Linked DNA regions of Homo sapiens. The protein of the gene in region 1 purifies or fractionates together with the protein of each later gene. This does not show direct contact. Each region holds a gene or a part of one and is shown in the gene's direction. Other genes may lie near its edges. The genes, in order: TCTN2, ITPRIP, KCNJ8, CSGALNACT2, ABHD14A, PGAP6 and BACE2.

The links.
Region 2: the proteins of TCTN2 (region 1) and ITPRIP purify together in Homo sapiens (affinity purification with mass spectrometry; 2 studies listed by BioGRID and IntAct, with this or other methods). This does not show direct contact.
Region 3: the proteins of TCTN2 (region 1) and KCNJ8 purify together in Homo sapiens (affinity purification with mass spectrometry; 2 studies listed by BioGRID and IntAct, with this or other methods). This does not show direct contact.
Region 4: the proteins of TCTN2 (region 1) and CSGALNACT2 purify together in Homo sapiens (affinity purification with mass spectrometry; 2 studies listed by BioGRID and IntAct, with this or other methods). This does not show direct contact.
Region 5: the proteins of TCTN2 (region 1) and ABHD14A purify together in Homo sapiens (affinity purification with mass spectrometry; 2 studies listed by BioGRID and IntAct, with this or other methods). This does not show direct contact.
Region 6: the proteins of TCTN2 (region 1) and PGAP6 purify together in Homo sapiens (affinity purification with mass spectrometry; 2 studies listed by BioGRID and IntAct, with this or other methods). This does not show direct contact.
Region 7: the proteins of TCTN2 (region 1) and BACE2 purify together in Homo sapiens (affinity purification with mass spectrometry; 2 studies listed by BioGRID and IntAct, with this or other methods). This does not show direct contact.

Annotation. Positions count from the first base shown.
Region 1 is NC_000012.12:123,702,113-123,705,505, forward strand, and holds part of TCTN2 (tectonic-2 isoform 1 precursor), read left to right. Parts: intron 1-2,419; coding exon 2,420-2,576; intron 2,577-3,393.
Region 2 is NC_000010.11:104,314,466-104,317,965, reverse strand, and holds part of ITPRIP (inositol 1,4,5-trisphosphate receptor-interacting protein precursor), read left to right. Parts: intron 1-1,901; coding exon of another isoform or gene 1,902-1,914; coding exon 1,915-3,500. UniProt on the Homo sapiens protein: Enhances Ca(2+)-mediated inhibition of inositol 1,4,5-triphosphate receptor (ITPR) Ca(2+) release.
Region 3 is NC_000012.12:21,764,707-21,768,206, reverse strand, and holds the end of KCNJ8 (ATP-sensitive inward rectifier potassium channel 8), read left to right. Parts: intron 1-1,583; coding exon 1,584-2,484; 3' UTR 2,485-3,252; downstream 3,253-3,500. UniProt on the Homo sapiens protein: Inward rectifier potassium channels are characterized by a greater tendency to allow potassium to flow into the cell rather than out of it.
Region 4 is NC_000010.11:43,148,445-43,151,944, forward strand, and holds part of CSGALNACT2 (chondroitin sulfate N-acetylgalactosaminyltransferase 2), read left to right. Parts: intron 1-1,342; exon of another isoform or gene 1,343-1,699; intron 1,700-3,500. UniProt on the Homo sapiens protein: Transfers 1,4-N-acetylgalactosamine (GalNAc) from UDP-GalNAc to the non-reducing end of glucuronic acid (GlcUA). Required for addition of the first GalNAc to the core tetrasaccharide linker and for elongation of chondroitin chains.
Region 5 is NC_000003.12:51,978,064-51,981,696, forward strand, and holds the end of ABHD14A (protein ABHD14A), read left to right. Parts: coding exon 1-19; intron 20-195; coding exon 196-311; intron 312-2,329; coding exon 2,330-2,565; intron 2,566-2,772; coding exon 2,773-2,955; 3' UTR 2,956-3,133; downstream 3,134-3,633. Other genes in the region: ABHD14A-ACY1 readthrough (NMD candidate), read left to right, coding at 1-19, 196-311. UniProt on the Homo sapiens protein: Possible role in granule neuron development.
Region 6 is NC_000016.10:375,479-378,978, reverse strand, and holds part of PGAP6 (post-GPI attachment to proteins factor 6 precursor), read left to right. Parts: intron 1-1,130; coding exon 1,131-1,308; intron 1,309-1,393; coding exon 1,394-1,601; intron 1,602-1,814; coding exon 1,815-1,942; intron 1,943-2,166; coding exon 2,167-2,435; intron 2,436-2,523; coding exon 2,524-2,843; intron 2,844-3,500. UniProt on the Homo sapiens protein: Involved in the lipid remodeling steps of GPI-anchor maturation. Lipid remodeling steps consist in the generation of 2 saturated fatty chains at the sn-2 position of GPI-anchor proteins (GPI-AP).
Region 7 is NC_000021.9:41,241,160-41,244,659, forward strand, and holds part of BACE2 (beta-secretase 2 isoform A preproprotein), read left to right. Parts: intron 1-659; coding exon 660-788; intron 789-2,216; coding exon 2,217-2,351; intron 2,352-3,500. UniProt on the Homo sapiens protein: Responsible for the proteolytic processing of the amyloid precursor protein (APP).

The DNA of each region.
Region 1 (3,393 bases):
TTTCTTGGGGAGCCTTGAGTCTGTAAATACTTTGAATGGAAAGCTTTTTTTATTGAGCTAATTAATGGAATTGCCTTTTGGGACCAGAAAGAGCCCAATGAGTGTGCGCATCTGCTTTGCCCCTGCCCAGCTCTCCCTGCAGATGCTGCTCTGCCCCTCTCCTCTGCCTGGTGGGTAGGGATCAGCCCTCTGGATCCTGTCCCTACCCTTTCCATCTCCTCTGAGGTCAGCTAGGCTCAGTAGGCTGGAATTCACACAACGGCCCATACAGACACACACCTGTATTGTGCCTACTCCTTGTGATTGGGGTCATGGTGATGAGGACCCTCCCTTCCCCCTCTTGGTCATGGATAATGTGATATGTCTGTGAGCTTGAGGTGCCCCAGACCACTCTCTGACTTGGGGAGGGAGTCCTGTTGGACTCCACCCCCACGGGGCACTCAGGCTGCTGTTTGCTCATCTAGCTGGTGCTCAAGGCACTGGGCCCAGACCTAGATCCTCATTTGCAAACGGAACCCAGAGGTCGAGCTTGTCAAGCCCTGGGCTCTGCCACCCAGGCCAGCTAGATAGGCTGTGGAATGACCCTGAGGGCTGGAGAAAAGTCAGCAGTTGGGAAATAAACGGTAGGGAAAATGTCCAGACGGAGAACCCAGGTTGATGAGGTACGAAATCAGTGTGGTGATGACATTTTGTTGCCTTCAAGGTGGAAGGGGTTAGCTTTTATTTCATGTCTGAGCCAAAAAGCAACCTTGATCCTGGTTAATAAGCAGAAGAGAAGTGGTGTTGACACATGTATAAGGAAATTAGACATAAAACAGTGTTACTGACCTTCGGAATCCCTGAAGGAGCAAAGAACCCCCTTCAGAGGAGCCATAGAACCTACCCTACTTCCTCCAATTGACCTTGCTGGGTTTTCTCCAAGACGAATGCAAATTCATTTCTCATTCAATTTCATTCTCTTCCAATTGTATTAATACTATGGTAACACATTAGGAAATTACTTACCTATCTAATACATACTAATTAAAGTCGTTAGTGTGGATTTTGTTTTATTATTATTTTTTTTTCAATTATTATCATTATTTTTTTTTTGAGATGGAGTCTCACTTTGTTGCTGGAGTGCAGTGGCATGATCTCGGCTCACTGCAACCTCCACCTCCCAGGTTTCAAGTGATTCTCCTGCCTCAGCCTCCCAAGTAGCTGGGATTACAGGTGTGCGCCACCATACCTGGCCAATTTTTGTATTTTTAGTAGAGACAGGGTTTCACCATGTTGGCCAGGCTGGTCTCGAACTCCTGACCTCAGGTCATCCACCCACCTCAGCCTCCCAAAGTGTTGGGATTACAGGCGTGAGCCACCACGCCCGACTGATTTTTATTTTTATTTTTTGAGATGAGGTTCTCACTTTTGTCCAGGCTGGAATGTAGTGGTGCCATGCCATCACGGCTTACTGCAGCCTTGACTTCCCAGGCTGAAGCAATCCTCTCACCTCAGCCTTCTGGGTAGCTGGTGTGTGCTACAGGTGTGTGCCACCATGACTGGCTATTTTATTTTTCTCGAGGAGACAGGGTTTTGCTATGTTGCCCAGGCTGGTCTCAAACTCCTGGGCTCAAGCAGTGCTTCTACCTTGACCTCCCAAAGTGCTAGGATTATAGGCATGAGCCACTGTGCCTGGCCTAAAGTTGTTAGTATGGATTTTAAATGTCTTACACAGCTTTTACTAGAACTGTGACTGCATGGAATAACGATGGCATTTCACTGCAATTATATATGTTTCTGTTAAAAGGCTGGGTAGATTTCAGTGGGAGCTTGGAAACTGAATCATGATTTATGGCTTTAATATGTGGGTCAGGGCTTTTAAGTTCCAGTGACTGGCTAACATACAAGGAAACTTTTTTTTTTTTTTTTTTTTTGAGACAGAGTCTCCCTCTGTCGCCAGGCTGCAGTGCAGTGGTGTGATCTTGGCTCACGGCAAGCTCCGCCTCCCAGGTTCACGCCATTCTCCTGCCTCAGCCTCCCAAGTAACTGGGACTACAGGCGAGCACCACCACGCCCAGCTAATTTTTATACTTTTAGTAGAGATGGGGTTTCACCATGTTGGCCAGAATGGTCTCGATCTCTTGACCTCGTGATCTGCCCGCCTCAGCCTCCCAAAGTGCTGGGATTACGGCGTTAGCCACCGCACCCGGCCCATACAAGGAAACATTTTAAACACAATTTTTATTAGTGCCATCCTATGCCTTGTAGACTTTAAGGGATAACACAGTTATGGAGTGACAAGTAACTAGAGCCTGTAAGAGACTAAAGCCTCATTAATGTGATGCCTGCCTGATATTATTCCCCATTTTGGTTATTACGACATTGTAGGAAAACTTATCAAATTATTCTTTGAAAAGTGTATAACTTAACATTTCTATAGGTGTAGATGCCCCTGATCCAGGTGCAGACCCGCTGGCTAGCAGTGTGAACGGCATGTGCCTGGATATTCCTGCTCACCTGAGCATCCGCATCCTCATCTCGGATGCTGGCGCGGTGGAAGGGATTACTCAGCAGGAGATACTCGGTGTAGAGACAAGGTATGATCACATCTTGGATCACCGTAGTTTAGAGAGAGTCAGGAAAGTTGAGAGCATCCCAAACAATAGGGAAATGTTTATTTAGAAACTGATTGTTTATTTACAACTTGCAATTATTAGCAAGATGTTTATATGCACATATGGAATATGTACGAACTATGTGTATAATGGAGACTTATTCTCACAAGTATTTATAAAGCCATATGTAAGAGAGTCTGCAAGTTATTTTAGGGAGTACAAAGATGAATAAAGGGCCCCTTAGTACTAAGTATATTTTGAAATCCATGGATGTAACTGATAATCTGATCAGAGAATATTGTCTGTGGTTAGAGACTTTGGCAGCAGATAGGTTCAAATCATGGCTGTCCTACTTAGGAGCTGTGTGACACTGGCCAATTACTTAACCTTTCTGAGCTGTAGTTTCCTCCTCTGTAATATGGTGATAATACCTTTATGTATCAAGCCTCCATCAGTTTTTTTTTTTTTTTTTTTTGAGACAGAGTCTTGCTCCGTCTCCAGGCTGGAGTGCAGTGGCAATATCTTGACTCACTGCAACCTCCAACTCTCTAGTTCAAGCGATTCTCCTGCTTCAGCCTCCCGAGTAGCTGGGATTACAGGCACGTGCCACCATGTCCAGCTAATTTTTGTATTTTTAGTAAAGACAGGGTTTCACCCTGTTGGCCAGGATGGTCTCAATCTCCTGACCTCATGATCCGCCCGCCTCGGCCTCCCAAAGTGCTGGGATTACAGGCATGAGCCACCGCGCCCAGCCTGCCTCCATCGGTTTTAAGTGACAGGCGCCCAGTTCATACTGACT
Region 2 (3,500 bases), on another chromosome or scaffold:
AACCCTTGTGGTTCCTGCAGACCTGTCCAGCTGTGTATGGGGTGGAACTGTCTGAGTCACATCTGAGCAGCAAGTTTGTCTAGGCGTGACCAGCAGCCAACTCAGTCCATCTCCATCCTGCCACTTGCCAGGGACAACCTGCAGAGGTATCTTTACCTGGGGACAAATCCCTGTTCCTTGGCACCATTAGGACAAGAATTTCATTGTGCAAATTCCAGGTCGGGCTCAAGCCAAAGGGAATGGGGCTCAGGTTGGCACAGTAGCTCCTATCAGCCAGTGTTAGTGTGCACTAGGGGGTGGTAGAAGGAGCCCTGTGCTCTCAACAATCTCAGGACCTCAACTGATTTGCATTTGGCCATTTGCTTCCTTCATCGAGGTCCCAAGCAAGGAGGGGGGTAGTTCAAGTGTGGAAATAGCAGATTGTTAAGTCCCAGGATTCCTGCTGAGGAGAGGAGAGGGTGTAACTAAGTCTTGCAGCGTAAGACAGTGCCTCTCAGATTTTTATATGGATGGTATTAAAATGTGGATTCCGATTCAGTAAGTGTGGGTGGGGCCGAGATTCTGCATTTCTAACAAGCTCCCAGGAGATACTGCAGCTGCTGGTCCGTGAATCATACTTCGAATTGCAAAGATTGTAGGGATTAGCCTTTCTCCAAAAGTCACTTGAGGCTTAAAAATCCACTTATCCTAGGGGAACAGAGTGCCTCCTTTCACAATTAAGAAGTTAGATTTAAAGTTCACATGCCTGGTAAGAAGAAATTAGTGATTCTTTGCTCTCTGGTCATCATCAAGATTGTCCTGGGGAAAGACAAAAGCCAGGAGAGTGTGTCTGAATATGGGGTAAGGTCTTCCAGGTCAGAAAGAGACGTTTACAGAAGAGGAGGATAAGGGCTCAAATCTACTTCCGAAACAGTTATTGTTCAGTGAATATGTGCTTTGCACTGGTCACTGGGCCATGCAGTTTGCAGGGATCATTGCGTCTCTCAATACCATGACCCTGTGAGATACTATTGCTTTCCCCTTGTGCAGTAAGGAAACCAGGGCTCAGAGAGGTGTGTTAACATGCCCAGGGTCACACAGCTTTTCAGTTGACAGTGCTGGTTTGGAACCTAGCCCTTTCTCCCTTAACCACTAGGCTTCACTGTATTGCAGGAAGATGACATTCACTTGGGAGAGAAGGGGATATGTTATTCAGGACTATTTTGATTTCAAGTGGTGGAAAGGCCACTCAAACTGACTTAAAAAGGGTTTCTTTATTGACTTGTGTGACTAAAGAGCTCAGACAGCAATGCCTTCAAGCAGAGCTGAGTGTGGGGAGGGGGGGTTCTGCTTTCCTCTATGTTGGTGTCTTTCTCAGGCGGGCTCCCTTCCCGAGAGCCCACTGCAGGTATAATCCTGTTCCCTCAGCAACCTAGCAACCAAACTAGCAACAGGATGAGTCTTTCTTCCTATTGGGCCCAACACACCCTACATCTGTCTCTCATTGGCCCGAATTGGATCAAATGCTCATCCCAGAACCAATCGCTCTAGCTGTAGCTGGGCGGCAGAATGTCTGATTGTCTTGGGCCTGGGTTTTGAGCCCACCCCAGGAGCTTGGAGGTGGGTATATCCTCGCCCTGGCCATAAGGACTGGTAGGAGAAAAGGGTTAGGGACAGTGGGGTGCTGCTGCCATCCAGGAATGTCTGGGTAGGACTAAAACAGATGTCCACCCCAGGGTAGGCCTTTGGGGCTCTTCCATGGCTGGACTGAAGCTCCTGAGGCAGCCGCAGGGAGCTCTCGATGGGTTGGGTGGGAGAACTAAGACCTTAACCAGCCCTGAGGGGCTGAGGTTGGTGCGGGGCCCAGGGACGAAGTGGCATTGAGGGAAGCTTGGTGTGACCATCTGTCTCTCTGTTCCCAGGAAAGCTCCAACCATGGCCATGGGGCTCTTCCGCGTGTGTCTGGTGGTGGTGACGGCCATCATCAACCACCCGCTGCTGTTCCCGCGGGAGAACGCCACAGTCCCCGAGAACGAGGAGGAGATCATCCGCAAGATGCAGGCGCACCAGGAGAAGCTGCAGCTGGAGCAGTTGCGCCTGGAGGAGGAGGTGGCTCGGCTGGCGGCCGAAAAGGAGGCACTGGAGCAGGTGGCGGAGGAGGGCAGGCAGCAGAACGAGACACGCGTGGCCTGGGACCTCTGGAGCACCCTCTGCATGATCCTCTTCCTGATGATCGAGGTGTGGCGGCAGGACCACCAGGAGGGGCCCTCACCTGAGTGCCTGGGCGGTGAGGAGGATGAGCTGCCTGGGCTGGGGGGCGCCCCCTTGCAGGGCCTCACCCTGCCCAACAAGGCCACGCTTGGCCACTTTTATGAGCGCTGCATCCGGGGGGCCACGGCCGATGCAGCCCGTACCCGGGAGTTCCTGGAAGGCTTCGTGGATGACTTGCTGGAAGCCCTGAGGAGCCTCTGCAACCGGGACACCGACATGGAGGTGGAGGACTTCATTGGCGTGGACAGCATGTACGAGAACTGGCAGGTGGACAGGCCACTGCTGTGCCACCTTTTCGTGCCCTTCACACCCCCCGAGCCCTACCGCTTCCACCCAGAGCTCTGGTGCTCCGGCCGCTCAGTGCCCCTGGATCGCCAGGGCTACGGCCAGATCAAGGTGGTCCGCGCCGATGGGGACACATTGAGCTGCATCTGCGGCAAGACCAAGCTCGGGGAAGACATGCTGTGTCTCCTGCACGGCAGGAACAGCATGGCGCCTCCCTGCGGCGACATGGAGAACCTGCTGTGTGCCACAGATTCCCTGTACCTGGACACGATGCAGGTCATGAAGTGGTTCCAGACGGCCCTCACCAGAGCCTGGAAGGGCATCGCCCACAAGTACGAGTTCGACCTGGCCTTTGGCCAGCTGGACAGCCCGGGGTCCCTGAAGATCAAGTTCCGTTCAGGGAAGTTCATGCCCTTCAACCTGATTCCTGTGATCCAGTGTGATGACTCGGACCTGTACTTTGTCTCCCACCTTCCCAGGGAGCCCTCTGAGGGCACCCCAGCCTCCAGCACAGACTGGCTCCTGTCCTTTGCTGTCTATGAGCGACACTTCCTCAGGACGACACTAAAGGCACTGCCCGAGGGCGCCTGCCACCTCAGCTGCCTGCAGATAGCATCCTTCCTGCTCTCCAAGCAGAGCCGCCTGACCGGTCCCAGCGGGCTCAGCAGCTACCACCTGAAGACGGCCCTACTGCACCTCCTACTCCTCCGGCAGGCCGCCGACTGGAAGGCGGGGCAGCTGGACGCTCGTCTGCACGAGTTGCTGTGCTTCCTGGAGAAGAGCTTGCTCCAGAAGAAGCTCCACCACTTCTTCATCGGCAACCGCAAGGTGCCTGAGGCCATGGGACTCCCTGAGGCCGTGCTCAGGGCCGAGCCCCTCAACCTCTTCCGGCCCTTCGTCCTGCAGCGAAGCCTTTACCGTAAGACACTGGACTCCTTCTATGAGATGCTCAAGAATGCCCCAGC
Region 3 (3,500 bases), about 100 Mb from region 1:
TGTCACATCAGTGGGGGCATTAGATTCTCATAGGAGTGTGAACCCTACGGTGAACTGCGAAGGTGAGGGATCTAGGCTGCGGGCTCCTTGTAAGAATCTAATTCCTGATGATCTGAGGTGGAACAGTTTCATCTCGAAACCATTTCCCCCCACACACACCCCCCAGTATTGTCTTCTACAAAACCAGTCCCTGTTGCCAAAAAGGCTGGGGACTGCTGCCCTAAACAATTACAATAATGACATCAAATATCACTAATCACACATCATGGTAACTGATGTAATAATAATGAAAAAGTTTGAAATTTTGTGAGAATTACCAAAATGTGACACACAGACACAAAGTGAGCACGTTTTGAAAAAATTGTGATAATAGACTGGCTGGATGAAGGTTGCCACAGACCTTCAATTTATAAAAATGCAGTATCTGCAAAATACATTACAGCAGAGAAGAATAAAATAAGGCATATCTGTATGTGACCTTGACACAGTCATTTACTAGTTTCTGCCCCTAGTTCTCCCTTTAATCATTTCAGTATTCTCCAGAACACCTAGAGTAGTGCTCCCCAACCTTTTTGGAGCCAGGGACTGGTTTTGCGGAACGCCAATTTTTCCACTGATGGGGGTGGGGGATGGGGATGGTGTGGGGATAAAACTGTCCCACCTCAGATCATGAGGCATTAGATTCTCATAAGGAGGGATAACCTATATCTCCCACATGTGCAATTCACAATAAGGTTCACTATACCATGAGAATCCAGTGCCTCCACTAACCTGACTGGAGGCAGAGCTCTGGCGGTAATGCTGGCTTACCCACTACTCACCTCCTGCTGTGTGGCCTAGTTCCTGACAAGCCATGGACCAGCACTGGTCCCTGGCCTGGAGGTGGGGGGGGGGGGGGTTGGGGACCCCTGACTTAACAAAATTAGATCATCAATAAGACACTTTTCTTTCCAAATGGAAAACAACTCCCTTCTATTAAAAATACTAGTTGTTTGGAATAATGTGTTTTATACTAGTTTTTTTAGCACTGTGCTATTTCTATATGAGACACAAAATAAGTATTAGCTAATGAATATGATTTTAAAGATTATAAATAATAAATTCACTCAGTACTCAGTACCTTCCATATGACTCAAGTCTCCTAAACATAGATACGCAATAAATAATAAACATCTACCTGGTAGAAAGTTTTACAAAGTAAACTGTGCCTTTGTGAAAGTGAAGTATTTCGCAAGGTAAAATATGCATATATATGAAAATATATTAATCTTTTACACAAATTAGGCCCATCACTATGTGACCTATGAAACATTAATAGAATGTTAATAGAATTAGGCCTTAGCTTAAGGGAACTTAATTAATAGAATGTTAATCTCCAGAAGTCTGGAGGTAGATGCATGCAAGAGAGAGAGAGACTGTTCTAAACACAGTTTAGAATTAGGCATTTTACAAGTTTAAGTTGGCTAGTCTTTCTGCAAGCATTTAATAGTCTTTGGTGGAAGAAAATGAAAAGCTCAGCTTGGCATATTTCATTATTCAAAATGTGACCTGATGGTGTTCTTTTCTGATATCATTCCTCACAGGTCTTTCACTTCTGCTTTTCTCTTCTCCATTGAAGTTCAAGTTACCATTGGGTTTGGAGGGAGGATGATGACAGAGGAATGCCCTTTGGCCATCACGGTTTTGATTCTCCAGAATATTGTGGGTTTGATCATCAATGCAGTCATGTTAGGCTGCATTTTCATGAAAACAGCTCAGGCTCACAGAAGGGCAGAAACTTTGATTTTCAGCCGCCATGCTGTGATTGCCGTCCGAAATGGCAAGCTGTGCTTCATGTTCCGAGTGGGTGACCTGAGGAAAAGCATGATCATTAGTGCCTCTGTGCGCATCCAGGTGGTCAAGAAAACAACTACACCTGAAGGGGAGGTGGTTCCTATTCACCAACTGGACATTCCTGTTGATAACCCAATCGAGAGCAATAACATTTTTCTGGTGGCCCCTTTGATCATCTGCCACGTGATTGACAAGCGCAGTCCCCTGTATGACATCTCAGCAACTGACCTGGCCAACCAAGACTTGGAGGTCATAGTTATTCTGGAAGGAGTGGTTGAAACTACTGGCATCACCACACAAGCACGAACCTCCTACATTGCTGAGGAGATCCAATGGGGCCACCGCTTTGTGTCCATTGTGACTGAGGAAGAAGGAGTGTATTCTGTGGATTACTCCAAATTTGGCAACACTGTTAAAGTAGCTGCTCCACGGTGCAGTGCCCGAGAGCTGGATGAGAAACCTTCCATCCTTATTCAGACCCTCCAAAAGAGTGAACTGTCTCATCAAAATTCTCTGAGGAAGCGCAACTCCATGAGAAGAAACAATTCCATGAGGAGGAACAATTCTATCCGAAGGAACAATTCTTCCCTCATGGTACCAAAGGTGCAATTTATGACTCCAGAAGGAAATCAAAACACATCGGAATCATGACAGCAAGATAACCCCAAGACAGTCTTTTATCAAGTTTTGACGGTTTATGCTGGGCACTGCCAGACTGAACCAGAGCTGGAACACAATAATGTGTCCTTCTACATTTTATTACACTAAATGATATTCATATTCAAGCAACAGCACTTTCTGTAGTAATAAAAAGTAACACACCAAGTGGAGGATTCATGGCTTATGCTTGTTTCATACATGTAGAATTCGCAGTGATATACTTAAGTTATGTGCAGGGGTGGGTATGCTCGTTTCTCTCAATTTGAAACACAAGAATTACACTAATAGTAACAGGCCTTGAGCACAAAATTTGGTCAAGAAATGAGTCTGTTTGAAATGCTTAGTTGGTGAAACCCAGATCGCTGTGTTACTAATGATCACTCTGGAAATGCAAATAGAATAGGAGGGGAAAAAACAAAATCATGTTAATGCGTTTTGTACATCAGCCTTCTCCTGTCTCCATGATAACTGCATTTGGTAGGAAGCCTGAGGCAAAAACTGCTTAAGTGGATCTGTTTGTAAGTGGATTCAGTTCATTCGCTTTGTCTGTCGGTGACTCCTGAAGGTTTCCTGGTCCATCTCATTGCGGCCTGTTGGGCAGAGCTGGACAAGGTGTCTTTGAAGGAAAGCTAAGTCTTGTCTCATTTAGGACTGGGTTCCCCACAGTGACAGTCACTTCCTTCAGCATCTCACTTCTTCTTCTAGAATCCCCACAGGGAAATACTGTATTGAATATTTTATTAAAACATTTTCTTTGTACTCACTGTAGTTTTGTGATTCCTCTTTCACAAAATCATCCCAAGTTAAAACTCAAGATGTTTTTAGAGCCATGTAAAAGAGATGTCAAAGTGATAACACTCACTCTGAGATTCCTCTCTCTCAAGTCTGTTTGCTCCAAAACTAGCTTTTTTTTGCTTTGTTTTGATTTTATTTCAGGTTTTAAAATGTCCTCTTGGTTTTTCAATCTAAGCCTGACATACCATAAAAATCCTATAAGCTTTTTTTTT
Region 4 (3,500 bases), on another chromosome or scaffold:
AAGAGGATTGTGTTTAATCTGTACATTAATTGGGGAATATTACCATTTTAGCAATATTAAGCCTTCCAATCATGAGTGTGGTGTCTTTCTGTTTATTTAAATCTTAACTTTCTTCCAACAATGTTTTGTAGTTTCTATGAATACAAGTCTTGCAGTTCTTTTGTTAACATTATTCCTATTTTATTCTTTTTGATGCCATATTGTATACAGGATTGTTTTTTTAATTTCATTTTCAGATTGCTTGTTGCTAATGTAGAGAAATACAATTGATTTTTGTATATCGATATTGTATCCTACAACTGGCTGAACTCATTTATTAGTTATAATAGATTTTTAGTGAATTCCTTAGGATTTTCTGCATACAGATCATATCATCTGCAAATAAGGATAGTTTTACTTCTTCCTTTTCAATCTGGATGCCTTTTATTTCATTTTCTTGCCTAATTGCCTTGGCTACAACCTCCTCTAGTACAATATAAATAGAAGTGACAAGAACAGACATCCTTGTCTTATTCCTGATCTTGGGGGAAGGCATACAGTCTTTCATCATTAAATACAATGTTAGCTATGGGTTTTTTGTAGGTCCCTTTTCTTAGATTAGGAAGGTGTCTTCTAGTTTATTGAATGGTGTTTGGTTTGGTTTGGTTTGGTTTTTTGAGATGGAGTCTCGCTTTGTCGCCCAGGCTGCAGTGCAGTGGCGTGATCTCGGCTCACTGCAACCTCCGCCTCCCAGGTCCATGTGATTCTCCTAACTCAGCCTCCTGAGTAGCTGGGACTGCAGGTGCATGCCACCACCACACCCGGCTAATTTTTTGTATTTTTAGTAGAGGCGGGGTTTCATTGTGCTAGCCAGGATGGTCTCTATCTCCTGACCTCGTGGGATCTGCCCACCTCGGCCTTCCAAAGTGCTGGAATTACAGGTGTGAGCCACCGCACCCAGCCCCTATTGAATGGTTTTTATTAGGAAATGGTGTTGGATTTTGTCAAATGCTTTTTCCATGTCTGTTGAGATGATCAAGTGAATTTTGTCTTCTATTGATATGGTATATTGCATTAATTGATTTTCAGATGTTAAACCAACCTTGCAGTCCTGGGATAAATCTTATTTGGCCATGATGTATGATTCCTCTTATATATTGCTGGGTTCGTTTTGCTAGTATTTTGTTGAGGATTTTTGTATTTATATTCATATAGGATATTGGCCTATGGTTTTCTTTTAATGTCTGGATTTGGTAGCAGGATGATACTGACCTTATAGAATGCTTCCTCTTCTATTTTTTGGAAGAGTCTGTGAAGATAATTCTTATTTAATAATAATAATTCTTATTTAAATGTTTGCTAGGCTGGGTGTGGTGGCTCACGCCTGTGATCCCAGCACTTTTCGAGGCTGAGGCGGGTGGATCACCTGAGGTCGAGAGTTCAAGACCAGCCTGACCAACATGGAGAAACCCCATCTCTACTAAAAATACAGAATTAGCCAGGCGTGGTGGTGCATGCCTGTAATCCTAGCTACTCGGCAGGCTGAGGCAGGAGAATCCCTTGAACGTGGGAGGCGGAGGTTGCGGTGAGCTGAGATCGCGCCATTGCACTCCAGCCTGGGCAACAAGAGCGAAACTCTGTCTCAAAAAAAATAATAGTAATAATAAATAAATGTTTGGTACATTCCACCAGTGAAGCCTCTTGGCCTGGACTTTTCATTGTGAGTAGTTTTTTTATTATTATTAATTCAATCTTTTGTCATATAAGTCTATTCATATCTGGTATTTCTTCTTAAATCAGTTTTGTTAGTTTCTATCTTTCTAGGATTTTGTCCATTTTATTCAGTTATCTTTTGAAGAGATTTAGATAATAATGAGCAAAAATCTTAGTTACCAATGTCGTTAACATTAATGATGTTTTTCATTGCTTTGTATAAATCCATATTCCTTTCTGGTATTATGTTCCTCTGCCTAAAAGACTTACAGTACAGGTATGATGGTGATGAATTCCTTTAGCTTTTTATGTAGAGAAAGTATTTTGCCTTTTTCAAAGATAATTTCTCTGGGTATAGAATTGTAGGCTGGCATATTTTTCTTTTTAGTTCTTTAAAGATCATTGTTCCACTGTCTAATTACTTTCAGTTTTCAAAGAGTAATCTGTCATTATTATCTTTTGTTCCTTGTATGTGATGTGCATTTTTCATGTGGCCAGTTTAAAGATTTTCTCTTTACATTGGATTTGAGCAATTTGATTATCATGTACCTTGCTATAATTTTCTTTATGGCTATTTGGGATTGGTTGAGCTTCTTATGTGTGTTTATAGTTTCCATCAAATTTGGGAAATTTTCAGCCTTATTTGTTTAAGTATTTCTCCTGACTCCTTCCCCCTTCTTTGGGGACTCCAGTTACATGTATATTAGGCTGTTTGAAGTTGTCACAGAGCTTATCAATGCTTTGTTTATATTTTTGATTCTTTTTTCTTTCTGTATGTTGCATAGTTTCTTTTGCTACATCTCTAGTTTACTAATATTTTCTTCTAAAATATCTAATCTGCCATTAATCCCATTCAGTGTATTTTTCATCTCAGACACTGAAATTTTCATCTCCTGAAGTTTAACTTGGATCTCTTTTATGTCATTCATACCTCTACTTAAATTTTTGAACATAAACATCATTTTAAAAATACAGTTATGATAGCTGTTTTGGTGTCCTTTTTCTGCAGATTCCCACATCTGTCAGTTCTAATCATTGGTCAGTTTTAATTGTTGATTTTTTTCATTATGGATCATATTTTTTTATACCTGGTAATTTTTGTTGAGATGCCAGATATTGTGAATTTTATTTTGTTGAGTACTGGATATTTCTGTATTCTTATAAATATTCTTAAGGCTTGTTGTGCTATTACTTGGAAATAATGTGATCCTTTCAAGTCTTGCTTTTAAGATGTATTGGCAGGATTAGTGCCATGTTTAGTCTAGAGCTAATTATTTCCCACTACTGAGACAAGATTTTTTTGAGTGCTCTACCGAGTGCCCTGGGAATTCTGAGGTTTTCCAGTCTGTCTGTTGGGAACATGCACTAATCCTGGCCCTGTATGAATGCTGGGTTCTGTGTCCTCTAATTTTGTGTGTGGTCCTTTCCTTAGCCCGTTAGTTGCCTCATAAGCCTTTACTTATCAGTGCTCTGCCAAATACCCATGGGATATCCTATTCAGATTTCTGGAGTTCTCTCTGTGTGCAGCTGTATCCACTCTGGTACTATATGCTTTAATCCTAGATACCTTGGTCTCTTCAGACTATGAGCTGCATCCCATGAACTCAGGGAATCTGCTGGGCTCTGCTTAGGTTCCCCTCCTTGTGTGGCTCAGAAACTAAGGCAGTAAGCTGGCAACCACTTGTTTCTTGTTTCTCTGGGGATCACTGTCCTTTGTTACCTGATGTTAAATATCTTGAAAATCATTGTTTCATATTTTGGGTTTGTTGGCAGGAAAAGTTGTTTGTTTGTTTTTGGTTGTTTCAAGA
Region 5 (3,633 bases), on another chromosome or scaffold:
CACTCAACCAGGCACACAGGTAGGTGCTGCTCCAAGGGTCTAGTGGAGGGACTAGGCTCAAGGGGAGTCCCTGTGTGGGACCCCCATTATACTCAGGGTGCTCAGGTCCTGGGAGGGCAATGGGAGAAGCCTAGGAATAAAGAAAGGTGGGCTACACCAGGTTCCCAGCAAACACATTCCCCTGTGTGCCTGCAGGGTGGAGGTGGTGCTGCTTCATGGAAAGGCCTTTAACTCTCACACGTGGGAGCAGCTGGGCACACTGCAGCTACTGTCACAGAGGGGCTACCGGGCCGTGGCCCTTGACCTTCCAGGTGAGCACCCCCACCCCTTTGTCTAGGGAAGCCTTAAGTGTGGCTGGGAGGCAACTGGACCCTAGGGTCTGGACAGGCCGTGGCAGGTCACAACATAAGGTGGCACCATGAAAAAGTCTGTGTTTTCATTTTCTACTATGAAAACTACAGTGTGAATTCTAGGTCATGGAGCAAATAAAAACTCTTCACAAGCAGTATACTTTCTTTTTTTTTATTTTATTTATATATATTTTTTGAAACAGAGTCTCGCTCTGTCACCCAGGCTAGAGTACAATGGCACAATCTCGGCTCACTGCAACCTCCGCCTCCCGGGTTCAAGCAATTCTCCTGCCTCCGCTTCCCCAGTAGCTGAGATTACAGGTGACTGCCACCACGCCTGGCTAATTTTTGTATTTTTAGTGGAGATAGGGTTTCACCATGCTGGCCAGGCTGGTCCTGAACTCCCGACCTCAGGTGATTCGCCTGCCTCGGCCTCCCCAAGTGCTGGGATTACAGGTGTGAGCCACTGCGCCCGGCCAAGCAGTGTACTTTCTATGGCAAACCATATAGGTTTTGTGTTTTTAAGTACACAAATGATTTATGCTATCATTCTTGTCATTAAAAAAATGAAAAAATGTCGAGTCATAGAGGATTAAAAAATACTAAAAAATAGCAAAGCTCTGAGAGACTGGTGCCGCATTTCTCTCCCTCTCTAAGAAGTTTAGGGGATGCCACACGCTGTTCTGGGTATTCCCACATGTAAAGATGCAGACGATGTAGAGGATTGTCTAGTGGGGGCTGTAAACATGATTGGTATCCTGTCTGCTTAGCACATCCATCTGTAGCTTGGTTTTCTCCCCCTACATCATGTCTCAAGGATCATGCCGGTCCCTACAAACCTCCCTCTTTGTTGTCAACCCTGCAGTGTGTCCCATAGGAGGGATGGACAGGCTTTATTCAGCCATTCCTCTACTGGCGGAGTGCTCAAGCAATATAGTAGCTAAAGCATCCTTGGGCATGCTTCTTTGAGCATGTGAGCAATAATTTCTCTAGGGTAGCTACTGAGGACAATTGATGGGCCAAAGGATGTGTTGTGTTTTGTTTTTTTTTTGTTTGTTTCTTTTTTTGTTTTTTGTTTTTTTTTTTTTTGAGACAGAGCCTCGCTCTGTCACCCTGGCTGGAGTGCAGTGGCTCGTACTCGGCTCACTGCAACCTCCGCCTTCTGGGTTCAAGCGATTCTCCTGCCTCAGTCTCCTGAGTAGCTGGGATTACAGGTGCGCCCCACCATGCCTGGCTAATTTTTGTATTTTTAGTAGAGACAGGGTTTCACCATGTTGGTCAGGCTGGTCTCAAACTCCTGACCTCATGATCCGCCACCTCGGCCTCCCAAAGTGCTGGGATTACAGGCATGAGCCACCGCGCCCAGCTGCCAGGACATGCATTTTTAAATTTAGATAACTACTATCTCACCCTCCAAAAACACTATATGGATTTATCTTCCCATCTGTCATGTATGAAAGTGCCCATTTCCCCATGTCTCCCCCAACACTGGGTATTATTTATTTTTTATTTTATTTTATTTTTTTTTTAGACAGAGTCTCGCAGTCGCCCAGGCTAGAGTGCAGTGGCATGATCTCGGCTCACTGCAGGCTCCGCCCCCCGGGGTTCATGCCATTCTCCTGCCTCAGCCTCCTGCGTAGCTGGGACTACAGGTGCCCGCCACCTCGCCTGGCTAATTTTTTGTATTTTTAGTAGAGACGGAGTTTCACCGTGTTAGCCAGGATGGTCTCGATCTCCTAACCTCGTGATCTGCCCGCCTCGGCCTCCCAAAGTGCTGGGATTACAGGCGTGAGCCACCACTCTCGGCCAAGATATGCTTTTCTAACAGGCATATTACATTACCAGAAAATAGCTTCTGGGCAGTTTTAGGTAGTGTGTGCCAGTGCCAGTGGTCCCCAACTTTTTCCCCCACTGTGGTGGGCAGGAAGTCCTGTGCCCCTTCCCAGTGCCCCTCAGCTGGTACCTGCTGCTGTTCCTAGGTTTTGGGAACTCGGCACCTTCAAAGGAGGCAAGCACAGAGGCAGGGCGGGCAGCGCTGCTGGAGCGGGCGCTGCGGGACCTGGAGGTACAGAATGCCGTGTTGGTGAGCCCCTCGCTGAGTGGCCACTATGCCCTGCCCTTCCTGATGCGAGGCCACCACCAGCTACATGGATTTGTGCCCATCGCACCCACCTCCACCCAGAACTACACCCAGGAGCAATTCTGGGCTGTGAAGGTACTGGGAGAAGGATCTCAAAGGTCCTGGCACCCTGTCTGTGGCTTGGGGGGGTTCAGGACTCAAGTCTTACTTGGAGGGACATGGCCTTATCCCTGACCTTGGATGGAAGAGTTGGATGGTGTTGGGGAAGGCTTCCTAGGAAGTGGCTTGGGGGTCAGAAACTCATCAGGCCCCAAGATCACAGCCCCCTGCCTTGCCCTGCAGACTCCAACCCTTATCCTGTATGGAGAGCTGGACCACATCCTGGCTCGAGAGTCACTGCGGCAGCTCCGCCACCTGCCCAACCACTCTGTGGTGAAGCTACGCAATGCAGGCCATGCCTGTTACCTCCACAAGCCGCAAGACTTCCACCTTGTCCTGCTTGCCTTCCTTGACCATCTACCTTGAACTAACCCACTCCCAGCTCCCAGCCTGGCATGAGCTTGGACAGTCTGGACCGCCACCCTCCCTGAACCAGGGAGACAGCCTCTGGGATTGGAGGCCAGAGGCCAGGGTCAGACCCAGCCAGGACTCCTCATTTCATCTCACAGACACAATAAAAAAGCATATTTGTCCTGCCTGGGAAGTGACAGGTTCCGTTTCCTGGTGTGCTGTGGGAAAGACGGGAGTGGGAGGCAAGTCTGGGACTACTTTGGGCCTGGGAGCTGGAGGGGATGTCCAGCAGTCTGAGAAGGCTAAGAATGCGCCACTTCCTAAGTGCCTGGCCTCACCACTCTGTGCCTGAGTTTCCTTATCTGTAAAACGGGTATGATGGCAACACCTAGGTTGGAGGGTGGTTATAGGACTGAATGAGTCTGGATAACTGAGTACTTGGCCACATAAGGCTGGGGAATTGCTGGTGGGAGGCGGGGTGTATTACTGCTGCTGCATGACCACAGGGATTGGTGGGAAATCCAGGGTCTGGACAGCCAAGCCAAGGAAGTCAGGAACCTAGAGGGTATGGGGAACGCGATTTAACAATTAGCCAGCATTGGCCGGGCGCAGTGGCTCACACCTGTAATCCCAGCACTTTGGGAGGCCGAGGCAGGCGGATCACGAGGTCAGGAGATCGAGACCATCCTGACT
Region 6 (3,500 bases), on another chromosome or scaffold:
ACGGGGGGCTGGGGGTGAGAGCCTGAGTCCTCGCCTGGGGCCATGAGCAGGATGTCTCCCACGGGCCCTTCTCCATCCCCGCACCAGGCGTGGGTGCGTTCCCTGAGGACAGTTAGGAGCCTTGCCCGCTTGGAACGCAGAGGGCAGCTGTCCCCTTGTTCTCATGACTGGCCAGGCTTCTGGCCTGGGTCCCTCCCACATGCAGTATCTCCCTCTGGGTAAGGGGAATTTGGGCTCCGGTCTCGCCGTGTCCAAAGTCATCATAGCCCAAGCAGGCAGCCAACCCATCCAGGGATGGAGATGTGGGAGGCTGAGAGGAGGTGGGAGGACCGTGCCTTGATATCCAGGGCATCTGTGATGAGGGGCGGGGGCTCCTTCCTGACACCTGCTGGGTCCTTCGGCTTCGACCTGGGTTGGCCATGGGGAGTGTAGTCTTCTAAGGTTGGAGGGGGTCCGGGTGGCAGTGCGGGTGGGGATGGCAGTCAGAGTGGCGATGGCAGTGCGGGTGGCGATGGCAGTGTGGGTGGCGATGGCAGTGCGGGTGGGGATGGCAGTGTGGGTGGCGATGGCAGTGCGGGTGGCGATGGCAGTCAGGGTGGCGATGGCAGTGCGGGTGGGGATGGCAGTCAGAGTGGCGATGGCAGTGCGGGTGGCGATGGCAGTGCGGGTGGCGATGGCAGTGCGGGTGGCGATGGCAGTGTGGGTGGGGATGGCAGTGCGGGTGGGGATGGCAGTGCGGGTGGCGATGGCAGTCAGGGTGGCGATGGCAGTCAGGGTGGCGATGGCAGTGCGGGTGGGGATGGCAGTGCGGGTGGCGATGGCAGTCAGGGTGGCGATGGCTGCTGAGGTACCCTGCGGCTTGTTTGGAAGCTGCTGCAGTGAGGCGGCAGCTGTGAAAAGACCCAGATGCCAGGAGGGTGGGATGTAGGCCATCTGGGGAGGGACAGCAGAGGATCTGGCTGAGGGGCCAGAGGGTGTCGGTGACCTTTGCCAAGGTCAGAGTTGGTGTGCCAAGATCTCCAGGTGGGTCCCCGGGGGCTTCCAGCCCTTTCCATCTGGGGGACTCGTCCTCCCCATCTGCGGCCCTGGAGGAGGGTCCCGGCCTGGCTGACACCTCCTTCTCCTCACAGAGGTGGGGCTGGTGTCCGAGCACTTCTCGCAGGCCCCGCAGAGGCTGTCCTTCTACAGCTGGTACGGCAGTGCCAGGCTCTTCCGCTTCCGCGTGCCCCCAGATGCTGTGCTTCTACGCTGGCTCCTGCAGGTCTCCCGGGAGAGCGGCGCTGCCTGCACCGACGCGGAGATCACCGTGTAGGTGGCTGCCCGCCCGCCTGCCCACCCTCCCGCGCCTGGCCAAGCCCTGTGCCTGAACCCGGTGCTGCTCTCCCGTCTCCAGGCACTTCCGTTCCGGCGCCCCTCCGGTCATCAACCCGCTGGGCACCAGCTTCCCGGACGACACCGCGGTACAGCCCTCCTTCCAGGTCGGGGTGCCGCTGAGCACCACACCGAGAAGCAATGCCTCCGTCAACGTTTCCCACCCGGCCCCCGGGGACTGGTTCGTGGCCGCCCACCTGCCCCCCTCATCCCAGAAGATCGAGTTGAAGGTGAGGGGGGCTGCCCTCCGGGATGGAGGCAGAGAACCTTGCGGCGATGGCCTGTCCCTGCCGTTCACCTCTTTGGGGTGGTCCTCGCTCTAGGCTCCACGCTGCACTCTGGGGCCAGCCCTGCTCCCTGCATGCCGGGGGCGTCTGGTGAGACCATGCCCTCACACCTGCATTCTCTGACACCGCCCCCGCCCACACCTGTTCTTTCCCTAGGGCTTGGCTCCCACCTGTGCCTACGTCTTCCAGCCTGAACTGCTGGTCACGCGGGTGGTCGAGATTTCCATCATGGAGCCGGACGTGCCCCTTCCTCAGACCCTCCTCTCCCATCCCAGCTACCTCAAGTGAGCGGGGGCCTGGGGGGCAGCCCGGCTCTGCCCTCCGGCCCCTTCTCAGATTCGGTGGAGTGGGTGCGAGAGCCTGGCCCTGAGTCCTGGGGTTGGGCTGGGAAGTGGTCCAGATGCCTGGCCCCCACCAGAGTGGGCTGAGGAACAGCAGAGCCTGGGCACGCTGCGTCCCTGGGCTGAGGAATGGCAGAGCCTGAGCCAGCTGTGTCCCCTCGCTGCAGGGTCTTTGTCCCCGATTACACGCGGGAGCTTCTGCTGGAGCTGCGGGACTGCGTGTCCAATGGGAGCCTGGGCTGCCCCGTGCGTCTCACCGTGGGCCCGGTCACCCTGCCTAGCAACTTCCAGAAGGTGCTCACCTGCACCGGTGCCCCCTGGCCCTGCCGCCTGCTGCTGCCCTCACCGCCCTGGGACCGGTGGCTGCAAGTGACAGCTGAGAGCCTGGTGGGGCCCCTCGGGACAGTGGCTTTCAGTGCTGTAGCTGCCCTCACAGGTGGGCCGCACAAGGGCTGGAGGGATGGCCCTGCCCCTCCCCAGATCCCCAGACTTTCCTCCAGCCAAACCCCTTGTCCTCTCGGCAGCTTGCAGGCCACGGAGCGTGACCATCCAGCCCCTTCTGCAGAGCAGCCAAAACCAGAGCTTCAATGCCTCCTCTGGTCTGCTGTCCCCGAGCCCCGACCACCAGGACCTGGGCAGGAGTGGCAGGGTGGACCGCAGCCCCTTCTGCCTCACAAACTACCCAGTCACGCGGGAGGACATGGACGTGGTGTCGGTGCACTTCCAGCCCCTGGACAGGGTCTCGGTGAGGGTGTGTTCGGACACGCCCTCCGTGATGCGGCTGCGCCTGAACACCGGCATGGACAGCGGGGGTTCCCTCACCATCTCCCTGCGGGCCAACAAGGTACCTGCTGTCTGCAAGCGGCCTGTGGCCTGGGCTCGGGCAGGGCGCCGGGCAACCCCTGCAGCGCCTCCTCATTTACCTTGGCACGGGACAGGCGGCACAGTGACACCAGCAGGCACGGGCCAAGACAGGGGCCCATGTTGGGGGGCCTCCCCTGCTGGGCAGCCTTGTTCCTGTCAACAGGCCCCGGGGCTGTGGGGTAGCTCGGGTCAGAGGTGGGGTGGAGGCAGGATGTCCCAGGGCCCGGGGAGGAAGGTCCCGGTGCACCGTGGGCCTGCAGGAGTCTCAGAGAAAGGCACCAGCACCGGCCGGGCGCGGTGGCTCACGCCTGTAATCCCAGCACTTTGGGAGGCCGAGGAGGGTGGATCACGAGGTCAGGAGATTGGGACCATCCTGGCTAACACGGTGAAACCCCGTCTCTACTGAAAATACAAAAATTAGCCGGGCGTGGTGGCGGGCGCCTGTAGTCCCAGCTACTCGGGAGGCTGAGGCGGGAGAATGGCATGAACCCAGGGGCGGAGGTTGCAGTGAGCCGAGATCGCGGCACTGCCCTCCAGCCTGGGCGACAGAGCAAGACTCCATCTCAGAAAAAAAAAAAAAAAGAAAGGCACCAGCACCAGGCTGAGCTGGCACGTGGGGCAGATGACCCCACTGCGG
Region 7 (3,500 bases), on another chromosome or scaffold:
GGGCATCCTCTGTATGTCTTGCTGGATGTGAGGGAGACACAGAGCACACGAGGGCTTCTGAAATCTGGCCTTGGGGGAATAAGAAGCCTTTTATGCTTCTGGAGTATAGATTTGTGCCTTTCCTGCTTCTTTCCTGCCAGAGTTCATCTGGCAGAGCTAAGCCTCACCCCAGGCTCTGGGGTCCGGGGGATACTGTCCTCCCAGGTCAGCCACCTCTCATTTGCATGGTGGACAGCTGCGGCTGACAGGCAAACAAAGATGTCTGCGGCCATGGCAGCTCCTAGAGAAACTCTTCTCTCCTTACTCTCAAATGCCTAAGATTAGGATCCACCACCTGCCACGGTAACCTACTTCCACGGCTTCTCACACCCCCTCACAAGGCAGTCATGATGATAGATGTGACTGCGTCGAATGGCTTCCAGAAATATGATCTTATTTGTACAACAGAGCCGTGCCCAAAGGAAGAATGCCAACCAGTGGGAAGCTCTGCTGGGGCTTTCTGAATTCCTAGACCCAATCACAAGCTGGTGTACTGTTGAACCATGAAAAAATTGAGTATAAACACCAGGAATGTCTGTGGCGCGTGGCGTCTACACTGGGTGACCCATGTCTACACTGTGAGTCCTAAGCGGGTGCCCCTCTCTGTCGCCCTCCCGCAGCCATCAAGTTCTCTGGAGACCTTCTTCGACTCCCTGGTGACACAAGCAAACATCCCCAACGTTTTCTCCATGCAGATGTGTGGAGCCGGCTTGCCCGTTGCTGGATCTGGGACCAACGGAGGTAGTCTTGTGGGTATCTTTTAGTCTTAAAGGGGCGAAAAATCACAGATGGATGGGCTGTTTTTTTCTGTTTTATTAAACACCTGAGCAGAAATATTAGGCATGTAGGTGTGCGTAGGTACTGTAAAACTTTCATCCTCCTTGTAGTAGATCTTTTTAGAAATGGCTAAAATTAGGCAATCCTTTATGTCATCCTGCCATCTGGAAGGATGATTCTCATCGCTTCTCCGAATTCCATTAAAACTTTTCTTTACCGCCCTTGGAAGGGCACTGCTTTCTGTGGGTGGGGGAGGGACAAGTGAGGAGCGGTGGGGGGCGTGGTGAGTGGACCTGACTGTGGGTAGGGGGCCAAAGGAGAGTTCATAAATTTGGCAGGGAAACAGGGGCCCTTGTAGATCCTTTCTCTCTCTCTCTCTCTCAACACACACAGGCACACACGCACCACAGCACAAGTGTTTGCTGCTGAAACAGAATCAAGGCCGTCAGCACTACGGAGGTGCTGGAGCCTGAGCTTCCCTCCAGGGGCCGGCACCCAGACGTCAAAAGTAGTAGGGGACAGGAAGAATGCACTAGAAGGGGGTGCTGCCAGTCCCTTTGCTGTCTGACTATGAGAGGCAGGATCTGCACCCCGGTCCTCAGCTACTTTCATTTGCTACCATTTCCAGGCAGAGGACAGCATAGGATTTATGAGGAAATGTTTTATGATTTTGCACAATGAAGCTTTGATCAGGGAAGTGCTTGATCTTCTGTTCTCTGACCTCCAAGGAACTAAATAATTGTCAGTCAGTGTGGTTAACTGTTTTATTGCATTTCTTTGAAGGAAAAATCTCAATATTGTAAAGCTAAACTTGTATGTACTTTCTTTGGATAAGAGAAACCTCCAAAGCATCTTGATTAGATGAGGGCCTAATACCATCTGACCTTTGCAGACGTGGACCCATAAAATTCCTTGTTTTATTTTATTTTATTTTATTTCATTTATTATTATTTTTTTTAGATGGAGTCTCGCTCTGTCGCCCAGGCTGGAGTGCAGTGACGCGATCTCAGCTCACTGCAGCCTCCGCCTCCCTGTTCAAGCGATTCTCCTGCCTCAGCCTCCTGAGAAGCTGGGACTACAGGTGCGCGCCACCTTGCCCGGCTAATTTTTGTATTTTTAGTAGAGATGGGGTTTCACCATGCTAGCCAGGCCGTTCTCGAACTCCTGACTTCATGATCCGCCCACCTCAGCCTCCCAAAGTGCTGGGATTACAAGCGTGAGCCACCGCGCCTGGCTCCTTGTTTATTTTTTAAGCATTGATATTTGTTTCATGACATTGTCACGAAGTAGAAGCCCTGATTGCAGTGAAGTTTCTCTTTACAAGTGCATGCTTCTCTGTGTAACCTGTTGATATGTCTGTGTATTTTTTCTCTTATACCTGTAAATATTTCCTGTCCCAGGTCTTGGGTGGAATTGAACCAAGTTTGTATAAAGGAGACATCTGGTATACCCCTATTAAGGAAGAGTGGTACTACCAGATAGAAATTCTGAAATTGGAAATTGGAGGCCAAAGCCTTAATCTGGACTGCAGAGAGGTATTTATGCTATGGTCTCTGTTGTGTCTTTCTGTGTATGTCTGGGTCCCTTAAATATGCCAGCTGGAACCCGTAGATGCCAATAGAAGGTACATTACCTCGTAAGATAAAGGCTCATTACATGAAAAGATGCAGGGCCTTGCTGTACAGTAAGTTGAAATCAATTAATTGTCCTCCCTCCCCACCCCAAATATTGCATCCTCCCAACCACTTATCTTCATAGGGCAAAATTACCATTAAATGGTGAGTGAAGAGGACTATCTGAGCTACACCTTTCACCATTCATTCATCTTGGATTGATGGTCCCTAAGCTCAGTTTAAGAGGTTGAAATAAACAGATTTTTAATCAGTGTAGGACAGAGAAGGACGAAAATTAAGCAAAATGAAACCGAAAAGATCATCAGCTTTTATCCTCCATTCACAGCTAGCCTGGCCCCCAGAGTACCCAATTCTCCCTAAAAAACGGTCATGCTGTATAGATGTGTGTGGCTTGGTAGTGCTAAAGTGGCCACATACAGAGCTCTGACACCAAACCTCAGGACCATGTTCATGCCTTCTCACTGAGTTCTGGCTTGTTCGTGACACATTATGACATTATGATTATGATGACTTGTGAGAGCCTCAGTCTTCTATAGCACTTTTAGAATGCTTTATAAAAACCATGGGGATGTCATTATATTCTAACCTGTTAGCACTTCTGTTCGTATTACCCATCACATCCCAACATCAATTCTCATATATGCAGGTACCTCTTGTCACGCGCGTCCATGTAAGGAGACCACAAAACAGGCTTTGTTTGAGCAACAAGGTTTTTATTTCACCTGGGTGCAGGTGGGCTGAGTCTGAAAAGAGAGTCAGTGAAGGGAGACAGGGGTGGGTCCACTTTATAAGATTTGGGTAGGTAGTGGAAAATTACAATCAAAGGGGGTTGTTCTCTGGCTGGCCAGGGTGGGGGTCACAAGGTGCTCAGTGGGAGAGCCTTTGAGCCAGGATGAGCCAGAAGGAATTTCACAAGGTAATGTCATCAGTTAAGGCAGGGACTGGCCATTTTCACTTCTTTTGTGGTGGAATGTCATCAGTTAAGGCAGGAACCGGCCATTTTCACTTCTTTTGTGATTCTTCACTTGCTTCAGGCCATCTGGACGTATA